Linked DNA regions of Homo sapiens: all the other regions are linked to region 3. The links come from fine-mapping of genetic effects on gene expression. A gene starts in region 3. Each other region holds a variant in brackets. All regions are shown on one strand. Distances are between the middles of the regions.

Evidence for each region.
Region 1: its variant is fine-mapped to the expression of ARV1 in whole blood (INTERVAL, PIP above 0.99).
Region 2: its variant is fine-mapped to the expression of ARV1 in cerebral cortex (GTEx, PIP 0.96).

Annotation. Positions count from the first base shown.
Region 1 is chr1:231,002,732-231,006,975 of GRCh38, reverse strand. No RefSeq gene overlaps it. Among named protein-coding and RNA genes, the nearest start is that of MIR1182, 15 kb to the left of the region's middle. The variant GTGTT/T (reference allele first, on the strand shown) is at 2,438.
Region 2 is chr1:231,905,001-231,909,244 of GRCh38, reverse strand. All of the region lies in intron 9 of DISC1 (DISC1 scaffold protein), which reads right to left. The region is part of intron 12 of TSNAX-DISC1 (TSNAX-DISC1 readthrough (NMD candidate)); the gene reads right to left. Among named protein-coding and RNA genes, the nearest start is that of DISC1-IT1, 19 kb to the left of the region's middle. The variant CATT/T (reference allele first, on the strand shown) is at 1,792.
Region 3 is chr1:230,977,178-230,981,421 of GRCh38, reverse strand. It overlaps ARV1 (ARV1 fatty acid homeostasis modulator), which reads right to left and starts at 2,328. Exons shown (of 6, transcript NM_022786.3): 1 at 2,143-2,328. The coding sequence starts at 2,316. It overlaps TTC13 (tetratricopeptide repeat domain 13), which reads left to right and starts at 2,561. Exons shown (of 23, transcript NM_024525.5): 1 at 2,561-2,862. The coding sequence starts at 2,592. RefSeq lists an enhancer at 2,097-2,396 and silencers at 2,677-2,936, 2,957-3,246.

The DNA.
Region 1 (4,244 bases), 26 kb before region 3:
GTTTGTGCTGTTGATGATTTCTTTTAGGAGTGTTTTGTAGTTTTTCTTGTAGAGATCTTTCACCTCCTTGGTTAGGTGTATTCCTAAGTATTTTATTTTTTGCAGCTGTTGTAAAAGGGATTGAGTTCTTTATTTGATTCTCAGCTTAGTTGTTGTTCATATATAGCAGTGCTACTGACTTGTGTACATTGATTTTGTAGCCTGAAACTTCACTGAATTCATTTATTGAATTTAGGAGCTTTTTGGATGAGTCTTTAGGGTTTTCTGGGTATATGATCATATCGTTGATAGGCAGACAGTTTAACTTCCTCTTTACTGATTTGGATGCTCTTTATTTTTTTCTCTTGTCCGATTGCTCTGGCTAGGACTTCCAGTACTATGTTGTAAAAAAGTGGTGAAAATGGGCATCCTTGTCTTGTTTCAGTTCTCAGGGGGAATGCTTTCAACTTTTCTCTGTTCAGTATAATGTTGGCTGTGGGTTTGTTATGGATGGCTTTTATTACCCCGAGGTATGTCCCTTCTATGTCAGCTTTGCTGAGGGTTTTAATCATAAATGGATGCTGGATTTTGTCAAATGCTTTTTCTGGGTCTATTGAGATGATCATATGATTTTTGTTTTTAATTCTGATTATGTGATGTATTACATTTATTTATTGACTTGCATACGTTAAACCATCCCTGCATCCCTGAAACCCACTTGACCATGGTGGATTATCTTTCTGATATGCTGTTGGATTTGGTTAGCTAGTATTTTGTTGAGGATTTTTGCATCTATGTTCATTAAGGACATTGATCTGTAGTTTTCTTTTTTTTTTGTTTGTCCTTTCCTGGTTTTGGTATTAGGGTGATACTGGTTTCATAGAATGATTTAGGGAGGATTCCTTCTTTCTCTATCTTTTGGAATCATTTCAGTAAGATTAGTACCAGTTCTTCTTTGAATGTCTGATAGAATTCAGCTGTGAATCCATCTGGCTCTGGACTTTTTTTGTTGGGATTTATTTCTGTTTCAATGTCGCTACTTTTAATTGATCTGTTCAGAGATTCTATTTCTTCCTGATTTAATCTAGAAGGGTTGTATATTTCTAGAAATTTATCCATCTCCTCAAGGTTTTCTAGTTTGTGCATGTAAAGGTGTTCATAGTAACCATGGACGTTCTTTTGTATTTCTGTATGATAAGTTGTAATATCTCCTGTTTTGTTTCTAATTGACCTTATTTGGATCTTCTCTCTTCTTGGTTAATCTCACTAATAATCTATTAATTTTGTTTATCTTTTCAAAGACCAGCTTTTTTGTTTCATTTATCTTTTGTATATTTTTGTTTAAATTTCATTTAGTTCTGCTCTGATATTTGTTATTTCTTTTCTTCTGCTAAGTTTGGGTTTGGTTTGTTCTTGTTTCTCTAGTTCCTTGAGGTGTGACCTTAGATTGTCTATTTGTGCTCTTTCAGACTTTTCGATGTAGACATTTAATGCTATGAACTTTCCTCTTAGCATTGCTTTTGCTATATCCCAGAGGTTTTAATAGTTTATGTCACTATTATTGTTCAGATCAAATAACTTTTTAAATTTCCATCTTGATTTTGTTGTTGACCTCAAGATCATTAAGAGCAGGTTATTTAATTTCCATGTATTTGTGTAGTTTCGAGGGTTCCTTTTGGAGTTAATTTCCAGTTTTATTCCACTGTGATCTGAGAGGATATTAGATATAATTTTGATTTTCTTAAATGTATTGAGACTTGTTTTGTCACCTATCATGGTCTATCTTGGACAGTGTTCCATGTGCTGAGGAAAAGAATGTATATTCTGCAGTTGCTGGGTAGAATGTTCTGTAAATATCTGCTATGTCCATTTGTTCTAGGGGATAGTTTAAGTCCATTGTTTCTTTGTTGACTTTCTGTCTTGATGACCTGTTTAGTGCTGTCTGTCAGTGGAGTATTGAATTCCCCTACTATTATTGTGTTGCCATCTCATTTCTTAAGTCTAGTAGTAATTGTTTTATGAATTTGGGAGCTCCAATGTTAAGTGCATATATATTTAGGATTGTGATATTTTCCTGTTGGACTGATCCTTTTATTATTATACAATGCCCACTTTCTCTCTTTTTTTGTTGTTTTAAAGTCTCTTTTGTCTGATGTAAGAATAGCTACTCATGCTTGCTTTTGGTTTCCAGTTGGATGGAATGTATTTTTCCACCCCTTTGCCTTAAGTTTATGAGTCTTTATGTGTTAGGTGGGTCTCTTGAAGACAGCAGATACTTGGTTGGTGGATTTTTATCCATTCTGCCATTCTGTATCTTTTAAGTGTAGCATTTAGGCCATTTACATTCAATATTAGTATTAAGATGTGAGGCACTTTTCTATTCATTATGCTAGTTGTTGCCTAAATACCTTTTTCCCCCATTGCGTGTGTGTTTGTGTGTGTGTGTGTGTGTGTGTGT[GTGTT/T]TTGTAGGCCCTGTGAGATTTATGTTTTAAGAAGGTTCTATTTTGGTGTATTTCAAGGTTTTGTTTCAAGATTTAGAACTCCTTTTAGCATTTGTTGTAGTGCTGGTTTGGCACTGGTGAATTCTCTCAGCATTTGTTTGTCTGAAAAAGATTTTTTCTCGTCTTCATTTATGAAGCTTAGTTTTTCTGGATACAAAATTCTTGGCTGACAATCATTTTGTTTCAGGGGGCTAAAATATAGGACCCTAATCCCTTCTGGCTTTTAAGGTTTCTGCTGAGAAATCACTGTTAATCTGATAGGTTTTCCTTTATAGGTTACCTGATCCTTTTGTCTCACTGCTCTTAAGATTCTTCTTTCATCTTGACTTTAGATAACCTGATGACTGTGTGCCTAGGTGATGATCTTTTTTGTGATGCATTTTCCAGGTGTTCTTTGAGTTTCTTTTATTTGGATATCTAGATCTCTAGCAACACCAGGGAAGTTTTTCTCAATTATTTCCTCAAATAAGTTTTCCAGACTTTTAGATTTCTCTTCTTTCTCAAGAACACCAATTATTCTTAGGTTTGGCCATTTATCATAATCTCGCATTTCTTGGAGGCTTGTTCATTTTTTAAAAAATATTTTTTCTTTGTCTCTGTCAGATTGAGTTAATTTGAAAGCCCTGTCTTTGAGCTCTTTATTTCTTTCTTCTACTTGTTCTATTGTTGAAACTTTCCGGTGCATTTTGTATTTCTCTAAGTGTCTTTCATTTCCAGAAATTGTGATTGTTTTTTCCTTATGACATTTATTTCTCTGGAGAATTTTTCATCCATATCTTGTATTGTTTTTTAGATTTCTTTAAGTTGGTTTTCAAGTTTCTCTGGTATATCCTTGAGTAGCTTAATAATCAACCTTCTGAATTCTTTTTCTGGCAATTCAGAGATTTCGTCTTGGTTTGGATCCATTGCTAGGGAGCTAGTGTGATCTTTTGGGAGTGTTATAGAACCCTGTTTTGTCATATTACCAGAATTACTTTTCTGGTTTCTTCTCATTTGGGTAGACTATTTTGGTGGAAAGATCTAGAACTCAAGGCCTGCTGTTCAGATTCTTTTGTGCCATGGGGTCATCCCTTGATGTGGGACACTCCCACTTTCCCGTGGGACGGAGCTTCCTGAGAGCTGGACTGCAGTGATTGTTATTGTTCTTCTGGGCCTATCCACTCAGCGGGTCCACCAGGCTCTAGGCTGATGCTGGAGAATGTCTGCAAGAGTCTCATGATGTGATTCATCTTCAGGTCTCCAAACCATGGATACCAGCACCTGCTCTGGTGGAGGAGGCAGGGAGTGAAATAGACTGTGAGAGTCCTTGGTTGTAGATATGCTTAGTGTGCTGGCTTTCTTGAATGCTGGTTATGCCAGCAGTGAAGTTGTCACGTGGACAGACTCAGGACCTCTGGTTAGCCAGGATGTTGCAGACAGTGGAATTAGCTGTTTTCTCCTTCCTGGGAACAGGGTTATTCTGTAATGAGTTGCTATAATGGCCTGAGTTGGTTGGCCTCTAGCCAGGAGGTGGTGGTTTCAAGAGAACACCAGCTGTGGTAGTAGAAGGGGGCTATAAGCTTGTCTTAAGTTGGCCAGGATAAGTATTCAGGCTTCTTGGATGATGGGTGAGGCCATAAAGCTCCCAAGAATTTATGTCTTTTGTAATCAGTTATCAGGGTGGGTAGAGAAATACCGTGGTGGCATTGGGCAGGGATAGGTGGGTCTAGGCTCAGACTCTCCTTGGGTAGGGCTTGCCACTGCCATTGTGCAGGATGAGGGGGT
Region 2 (4,244 bases), 930 kb before region 3:
CAAGGCAGGGATGCCCTCTCTCACCACTCCTATTCAGCATAGTGTTGGAATTTCTGGCCAGGGCAATCAGGCAGGAGAAAGAAATATAGGGTATTCAACTAGGAAAAGAGGAAGTCAAATTGTCCCTTTTTACAGATCACATGATTTTATATTTAGAAAACCCCATCATCTCAGCCCAAAATCTGCTTAAGCTGATAAGCAACTTAACCAAAGTCTTAGGATACAAAATGAATGTGCAAAAATCACAAGCATTCCCATACACCAATAACAGACAAACAGAGAGCCAGATCATGAGTGAACTCCCATTCACAATTGCTACAAAGAGAATAAAATACCTAGGAATACAACTTACAAGGGATGTGAAGGACCTCTTCAAGGAGAACTACAAATCACTGCTCAACAAAATAAAAGAGGACACAAACAAATGGAAGAACATTCCATGCTCATGGATAGGAAGAATCAATATCGCGAAAATGGCCATACTGCCCAAGGTAATTTATAGATTCAATGCCATCCGCATCAAGCTACCAATGACTTTCTTCACAGAACTGGAAAAAACTACTTTAAAGTGCATATGGAACCAAAAAGGAGCCCACATTGCCAAGACAATCCTAAGCCAAAAGAACAAAGCTGGAGGCAACACACTACTTGACTTCAAATGATACTACAAGGCTACAGTAACAGCATGGTACTGATATCAAAACAGAGATATAGACCAATGGAACAGAACAGAGCCCTCAGAAATAATACCACACATCTACAACCATCTGATCTTTGACAAACCTGACAAAAACAAGAAATGGGGAAACGATTCCCTATTTAATAAATGGTGCTGGAAAAACTGGCTAGCCATATGTAGAAAGCTGAAACTGGATCCTTTCCTTACACCTTATACAAAAATTAATTCAAGATGAATTAAAGACTTAAATGTTAGACCTAAAACCATAAAAACCCTAGAAGAAAACCTAGGCAATACCATTCAGGACACAGGCATGGGCAAGGACTTCATGACTAAAACACCAAAAGCAACGGCAACAAAAGCCAAAGTTGACAAATGGGATCTAATTAAACTAAAGAGCTTCTACACAGCAAAAGAAACTACCATCAGAGTGAACAGGCAACGTACAGAATGGGAGAAAAGTTTAAAAATCTACCCATCTGACAAAAGGCTAATATCCAGAATCTACAAAGAACTTAAACAAATTTACAAGAAAAAGTCAAACAACCCCATCAAAAAGTGAGCAAAGGATATGAACAGACACTTCTCAAAAGAAGACATTTATGCAGCCAACAGACACATGAAAAAATGTTCATCATCACTGACCATCAGAGAAATGCAAATCAAAACCGCAATGAGATACCATCTCATACCAGTTAGAATGGCGATCATTAAAAAGTCAGGAAACAACAGGTACTGGAGAGGATGTGGAGAAATAGGAACACTTTTACACTGTTGGTGGGACTGTAAACTAGTTCAAGCATTGTGGAAGACAGTGTAGCGATTCCTCAAGGATCTAGAACTAGAAATACCATTTGACCCAGCCATCCCATTACTGGGTATATACCCAAAGGATTATAAATCATGCTACTATAAAGACACATGCACACGTATGTTTATTGTGGCACTATTCACAATAGCAGACTTGGAACCAACCCAAATATCCATCAATGATAGACTGGATTAAGCAAATGTGGCACATATACACTATGGAATACTATGCAGCCATAAAAAAGGATAAGTTCAGGAGCCCACATGTCCTTTGTAGGGAAATGGATGAAGCTGGAAACCAT[CATT/T]CTCAGCAAACTATCACAAGGACAGAAAACCAAACACTGCATGTTCTCACTCGTAGGTGGGAATTGAACAATGAGAACACTTGGACACAGGATGGGGAACATCACACACTGGGGCCTGTTGTGGGGTGGGGGGAGTGGGGAGGGATAGCATTAGGAGATATATCTAATGTAAATGATGAGTTAATGGGTGCAGCACACCAACATGGCACATGTATACATATGTAACAAACCTGCACGTTGTGCACATGTACCCTAGAACTTAAAGTATAATAAAAGAAAGAGAAAGAAAGAAAGAAAGAAAGAAAGAAAGAAAGAAAGAGGAAGGAAGGAAGGAAGGAAGGAGAGAAGGAAGGAGGGAGGGAAGGAAGGAAGGGAGGGAGGGAAGGAAGGAAGGGAGGGAGGAGGGAGGGAAAGAAAGAGAGAGAGAGAAGAAAAAGAAAGAGAGAGAGAAAGAAAGAAAGAAAAGAAAGAAAAGAAAGAGAAAGAAAGAAAGCAAAGAAAGAAAAAGAAAGATTCTTTAGGCTTAAAAACCACATCGAGACAAAATTTGTAATGTAGTTATTCACTCATGGGATTGACTGGGAGGATATAAAACATAAGCCCCTTAATTTTTTTTTTCCTTTCTTCTTGTGCTTCCTTTTTTCTCCCCTAATACGTACGCAGCTCCTGTTTTACCTTCAGGGAGCCAAATATAATTACTAAACATGGTCACAATGTCTGCCAAAAAGCACGGTGGAGCAATAAGGGCAAGGCACCCTCTAACCTGAACGGCTTTAGAGAATCTACTTAATCTGTTACAAAGCTTTAGGAAGGACAGTGCCATCACAATCACCCAGCTGTAAATATCTAGCACACTGGCCTGACTTTTCTTTTTAGTTTAGTTTAGTTTTGTTTTTGTCCTTGCTTTCACACACAGCTGCCTTATCACTGGGAAACACCTATATTCACCCTGGACTTAATCCATATCCCTCGTGCATAAAGCACCCCCTGGGATATTTTAAGATCCCCAAACTCACACATGTGAGTGAATTCAGTAATAGTAGGGATGCTATCCTCAAGAACAGGCAAAAATATCAGGCATTGTACTTACGTCTCTCTCACTGATTCATGGATCAAAATCCATGCCCTTGACCGGGCATGGTGACTCATGCCTGTAATCCCAGCACTTTGGGAGGTCAAGGCAGGCAGATCACCTGAGGTCAGGAGTTCAAGACTAGCCTGACCAACATGGAGAGACCCCATCTCTACTAAAAATACAAAATTAGCCCGGCGTGGTAACGCATGTCTGTGGTCCCAGCTGCTTGGGAGGCTGAGGCAGGAGAATCACTTGAACCTGGGAGGCAGAGGTTGCGGTGAGCTGAGATCGTGCCATTACACTCCAGCCTGGGCAACAGAGTGAGACTCCATCTCAAAAAAAAAAAAAAAAAAAAAGCCATGACCTCAGCGAATTCATTTTAAACAATCACAGAGCAACAGAGAAGTTACAAATATAGTACAAAGAACTTTCTATTTCCTGGACCATTTGAGAGTTGTTGACCCGCTGTTCCTCCACCCTTGAATATCTTAGTGGATATTTCCTAAAAACGAGGGTATTTTCCTAAATAACCACAATATAACCATCAAAATCAGGAAATCAATAATGATAGACTACTACCATCGAATCCTCAGGCTTCATTGAAATGTTGCCAAATGTCCTGATAATGCCTTTTATAACAACAAAAGGGTCCCCCATGCCCCTCAGAATCACACATTGCACTCAGTTCCCATGTCTCTTAGTCGCTTTGAGTTGGGAACAGTTCTTTAGTCATTCCTTTATTATTTTTTAAATTAAGACAGGATCTGGCTCTGTTGCTCAGGCTGGAATGCAGTGACACAATCATGGCTCACTGCAACTTCATCATCCCAGGCTCAAGCAATCCTCCCACCTCAGCCTCCCAAGCAGCAGGAACTACAGGTGTGCATCACCACGCCAGGCTAATTAAAAAAAAAAATTTGTGGAGACGGGGGTCTCACTATCTTGCCCAGGCTGGTTTCGAACTCTCAGGCTCAAGCAATCCTCCCACCATGGCCTCCCAAAGTGCTAGGATAATAGGCATGAGCCACTGCGTACAGCCTGGCCATTCCTTGACTGTCTTGACCTTGGCACTTCTGAAGACCATAGGCCAGTTATTTTGTGGAATGCACCTCCATCTGAGTTTCCCTGGTATTTACTCATGATCAAACTCAGGTTTGCATTTTTGTTGGGAAATCCCAGATCTGATGTCATGGTGCTCTTGTAGCTTACTGTGGTGGCTAAGGACTTCGACTTGTCCCATTGCTGATGATAACGTTGATAATTTGATTAAGGTGCTCTCTGTCAGGCTTCTCCACTGTAAAGTTATTCTTTTCATCTTTGTATTTAATAAGTATTCTGAGGGGATGTAATTGGAACTATGTAAAAATTCCATTCC
Region 3 (4,244 bases):
GTCTTAGGAGTTAAAATGGTAAAGTTGCCATTAACTGTGATGGGTATATTTGAGCTGTCTATTGAAATCCAAGTGGAGAAGTCAAGTAGGTAGTTGGACATTTAAGTCTGGAGTTCAGGGAAGAGGTTCAGGGTAGAAATATAAATTTGGAAATTGTCAAAATTTTGACGGTATTTAAAGCCATGAGACAGAATGAGCTCTTCAAGGGAAAGCATGCAGACAGAAAGAGGCACGATGACTATGCGTTGGAATACACCATGATTAAGAGGTAAGGGAGGTGAAGCAAAAGCAGAAAGGAGATTGAGGGGTAACAGCCAGTGAAGTAAGAAGACAATAAGAAGAGCACTGAATCCTGGGAAGCGCACACAGCATTTCAAGGAGGAGGAAGTAATGAGGTAAAATGCTGCTGATCATTAACTGAGAATCGACTACTGGATTTAGCAAAGTGGAAGTGGTGATCTTAACAAGAACAGTTTCTAATGAAATGCGGGTGGGAATGTGACTAAAGCAGGTTCAAGAGAAACTAGGAAAGGAAATAGACAGTACAAACATATCTTAGAAGGTCTGCTTTCTAATTAAGAAGAAAAAGAGCAGAAGCTAAAGGGGGAAGTGGCAGCAAGTGTATTTTGTTGGTGGTGTTGGTTTTTTTTTTTTTTTTGATGGAAGAAGTAACAGTATGCATGCTGGTGGGAATGATCCAGCAGAAGGCAGAAGAAGACAGTACAGTAAAGAAATAACAAATGCTAGTATTGGGTTTATGTTGTTGCAAACCTGGTGGAAGTTCTCTTCTGTTTTCGCAGTGGCTCATGCCTGTAACCCCAGCACTTTGGGAGGCCGAGGTGGGTGGATCATTTGAGGTCAGTTCAAGACCAGCCTGGTCAACATGGTGAAACCTGGTCTCTACTAAAAATACAAAAATTAGCCCGGCGTGGTGGTGCAGGCCTGTAATCCCAGCTACTTGGGAGGCTGAGGCAGGAGAATTGCTTGAACTTGGGAGGCAGAGGTTTTAGTGAGCTGAGAGTGCCCCACTGCACTCCAGCCTGGGTGACAGAGGGAAACTCTATCTCAAAAAGAAAGAAAGAAAGAAAAAAAAAACCGAAATAAGATTGCCAGAAATCATGAAAGGCCTATATGAGGTTAATCGTCACAAATTTGTTTTTCCCCAGCAACGTACTGCTGCATGGGTACAGGGACAAGACCAGGCAATATGTTGGATTTAACAAGGGTTGACATTTTGACAAAAGAGGGAAAGTACTTGAGAGAGGAACAGGAAATTGAGGTTGTATGCATCAGAACGTTATGTGGTTGGCAGATTATACAGGTATACACTCAGTTTGTCAATTCTCTTGTATATTACTACAGACCATAATTTACTAAAGAGATTAGAAAATCACAAGATCTGAAATGGGACAAAAATGTACTGTCTATTCTGTGACAGGTTCTTTGCTAATTAATACCCCCAAAGAACCTCCAACTTTGTAGACTCTTTAAACATAAGATTATTCTCTCTGCCGTAAAATAAAGAAGGGAAAGAGTAGCAGGAGACTCCATAGGGCCTTATAAGCCAGTTCAGGGATTCGGGCCTTAACTCTGAGATGGAAAATCATCAGAAAGTTCAAGGTATTCTACGAACACCTTGAAATGAGAATTTTTACTTCCTCACTTTTGGGTTTTGTACCACCAACGTCTAGCATAGTGCTTTGTACACCGTAGACATCCAATAACGACAATTGATGAAACCTTTAAAAAGCATCGTAGGTGAATTCAACATGGGTTGTGGAGGGTAAGGATGGTACCATCTCTCTGTCAAAGGGAGAAGAGCTAGAAGGAAGTAGCTTTGGCATGAACCAAAATGTCAACCTAATTGATCTTTAAATTTCTCTGCAAAATGCCCACATCTACCTCTGTCTGTCGGTCCGGTCCGTTCGCCGGCTTAGGTCATATCACCCAAATATGCCCCAGTATGAGAAAAGCGCTGTCGGGTAGCTGAGTTCTCTATCAGTACAGATATTCATGCAAAGATCCCGGGCGGGAATGTCAACTACCGAACTAAAGACTGTATCAGAGGACCCTGCTCCTCGCGGTCCCCAAATCCCGCCGCGCCATTTTCTTCTCAAGGGCACCCCACACCTGACAACTCACACAGATGGTTATCTTCAGCACACCGTGGTTATAGTCTCGGTACAACTCTTTGGCCTCCTGGTTGCATTCGATGCACCTGTACTGGCAGGAGGCCGAGGCAGCAGTAGGAGTCGCTGCCACCCCATCCACGTTCCCCTTCCCCTGCTGCAGGCCGCTCCGCCCGCCGTTGCCCATTTCCACTCAACTGCAGTCCAGAACTTCCGATTCTGTGGAGGGTAAGACGTCAGACGCCAGACCGGAAGACTTGCGCCGCGCGGGCTTATTGGGATTCGTAGTCCCGGCACCGGCAAGGCGGCCCCGGGCTGGCCGAGCTGGGACTACCATTCCCAGCACACAATGCTTCTCCCCTTGTCCCGCCCCCTTGCCACGGTCCACCTGCCCGCCGTAGGTTAGAGGCGGGGAGGCCTGAGAGCCGGGCAAGGGCTGTCGCGCATGCGCCTTGAGGGAAGATGGCACCTGCCGGCTGCTGCTGCTGCTGCTGCTTCTGGGGCGGCGCTGTGGCCGCCGCGGGCGCCGCCCGGCGTGTCCTGCTGCTGCTGCTGCTGGGGGTCCTGTCCGCCGGGCTGCGGCCAGGCGCCCTGGCCACCGAGCACTACTCGCCGCTCTCCCTGCTCAAGCAGGAGCTGCAGCACCGGCAGCAGCAGGAGGCCCCGGCGGGCGGCGGCGGCTGCAGCCCGCAGTCCGGGGACTGGGGGGACCAGTACTCTGCCGAGTGCGGCGGTGAGTGGGCGGCGGCGGGCGTCCGAGTCGGCCGGGGCGGCGGGGCAGCGGGGCTGGGGTCCCGGGCCGGGGTACGGGTCGCCCGGGCCTCACGCCTCCGGCTGCGGCGCGCGATCCGCGGGAGCCGGCTCGGCCAGGGGTCCTGGCGGGCAGCTTCCCGCCGCTGCCACCCACGCCGCCGCGCGCCCTCCTGCAGCCGCCTTTGGGCAGGGCGGCGAGTCGAGAAATGAGCTGACAGCATGCTCCTGGGGCCAGGGCGGCCTCTCTCCTGAGTCTGAAGCAACTGTTGGAAGGGTGGCGGAGGAGATGGCAGGTGGCCCGGGGCAGCCCTGTTCCCGCCGCCGGCCTCCCGAGGATGCCGAAGGGGCGAGGGAGGGGCGGGCGGACGAGCAACCAGCCCGGCGGCTTGCGGAGCCCGCCCCCGGAGGGAGACGCCTGGCACATCTTAGGCCTGGAAATCAGGCTTCCTGACCTCCCGGGTTAATGTCTCGTATACAACAGTTCCTAAAAATTGGATCCCTGGAATGGAAAAAAAGAGCAAGCCCATCTTATCTGCTCGTTGACATCTTGCTTCCAGTTGTTTAAGATCAACCTGCGATCTGTCAGGTGTCTCCCAGAGGGAAAAAAGGCCCCTGCAGGCCTTGAGCCTGTGTGTCAGTGCCGTGTGTGTATTGGAGCTACGCCAGCTCATTCATTAAGAATGGGCGCTATTGGCTTCAGTTTAATAAATCATAGCAGATGCCTCTGGGACAAAATACGTGTGTACATTTTTTTGTTTTGAAGTTCTGTCGTGGGTCTTTTTACCCATCAATCTCCTCCCTTTCTCTTTCCCCCTTCTCTATGTGAGTTCCCTTATGGCTTGCTTTGGGAAGGACCGGGGTCTACCGAACCCACTGGGAGATGGTTGCTTTTAAGACTTGGCAGTGGTTTTCTTCGGCATTGTGTACCTGGGAAAACAATACCTTTTTTTTTTAGTTGAGATGAGACGTCAAGATTAGCACAATCTGATTTCCTTTTAGTACAGTCTGACTTCCTTGAGGAAGTGTCACTCACTGAGAGGTTTGTGACTTTTTTATTTTGCGGTAGGCCTTAGCTGGTAACGGCGTAAGTAACACGGCCAGCCTTGCACGGTGGAGAAAGAATGGCATTTACTTACCTCTGTCACTTTCTGTATCTCTGAGCAAGTGAATTACCTGTCTTTGTAAAATGCCTCCTCTGTAAGTGGAAAACACTGTTCACCTAATTGTGGGGTTTTATTTTCCTCACGAGGGTGCTGTGAGGGAAATGAGAAGTAGCCGACATATATTGAGTGCTTGCTGTATGCCAGGTGCTGTTATAAGTGCTTTAGGTCTATGAGCCTAGTATATTAGTCTATCAGAAAA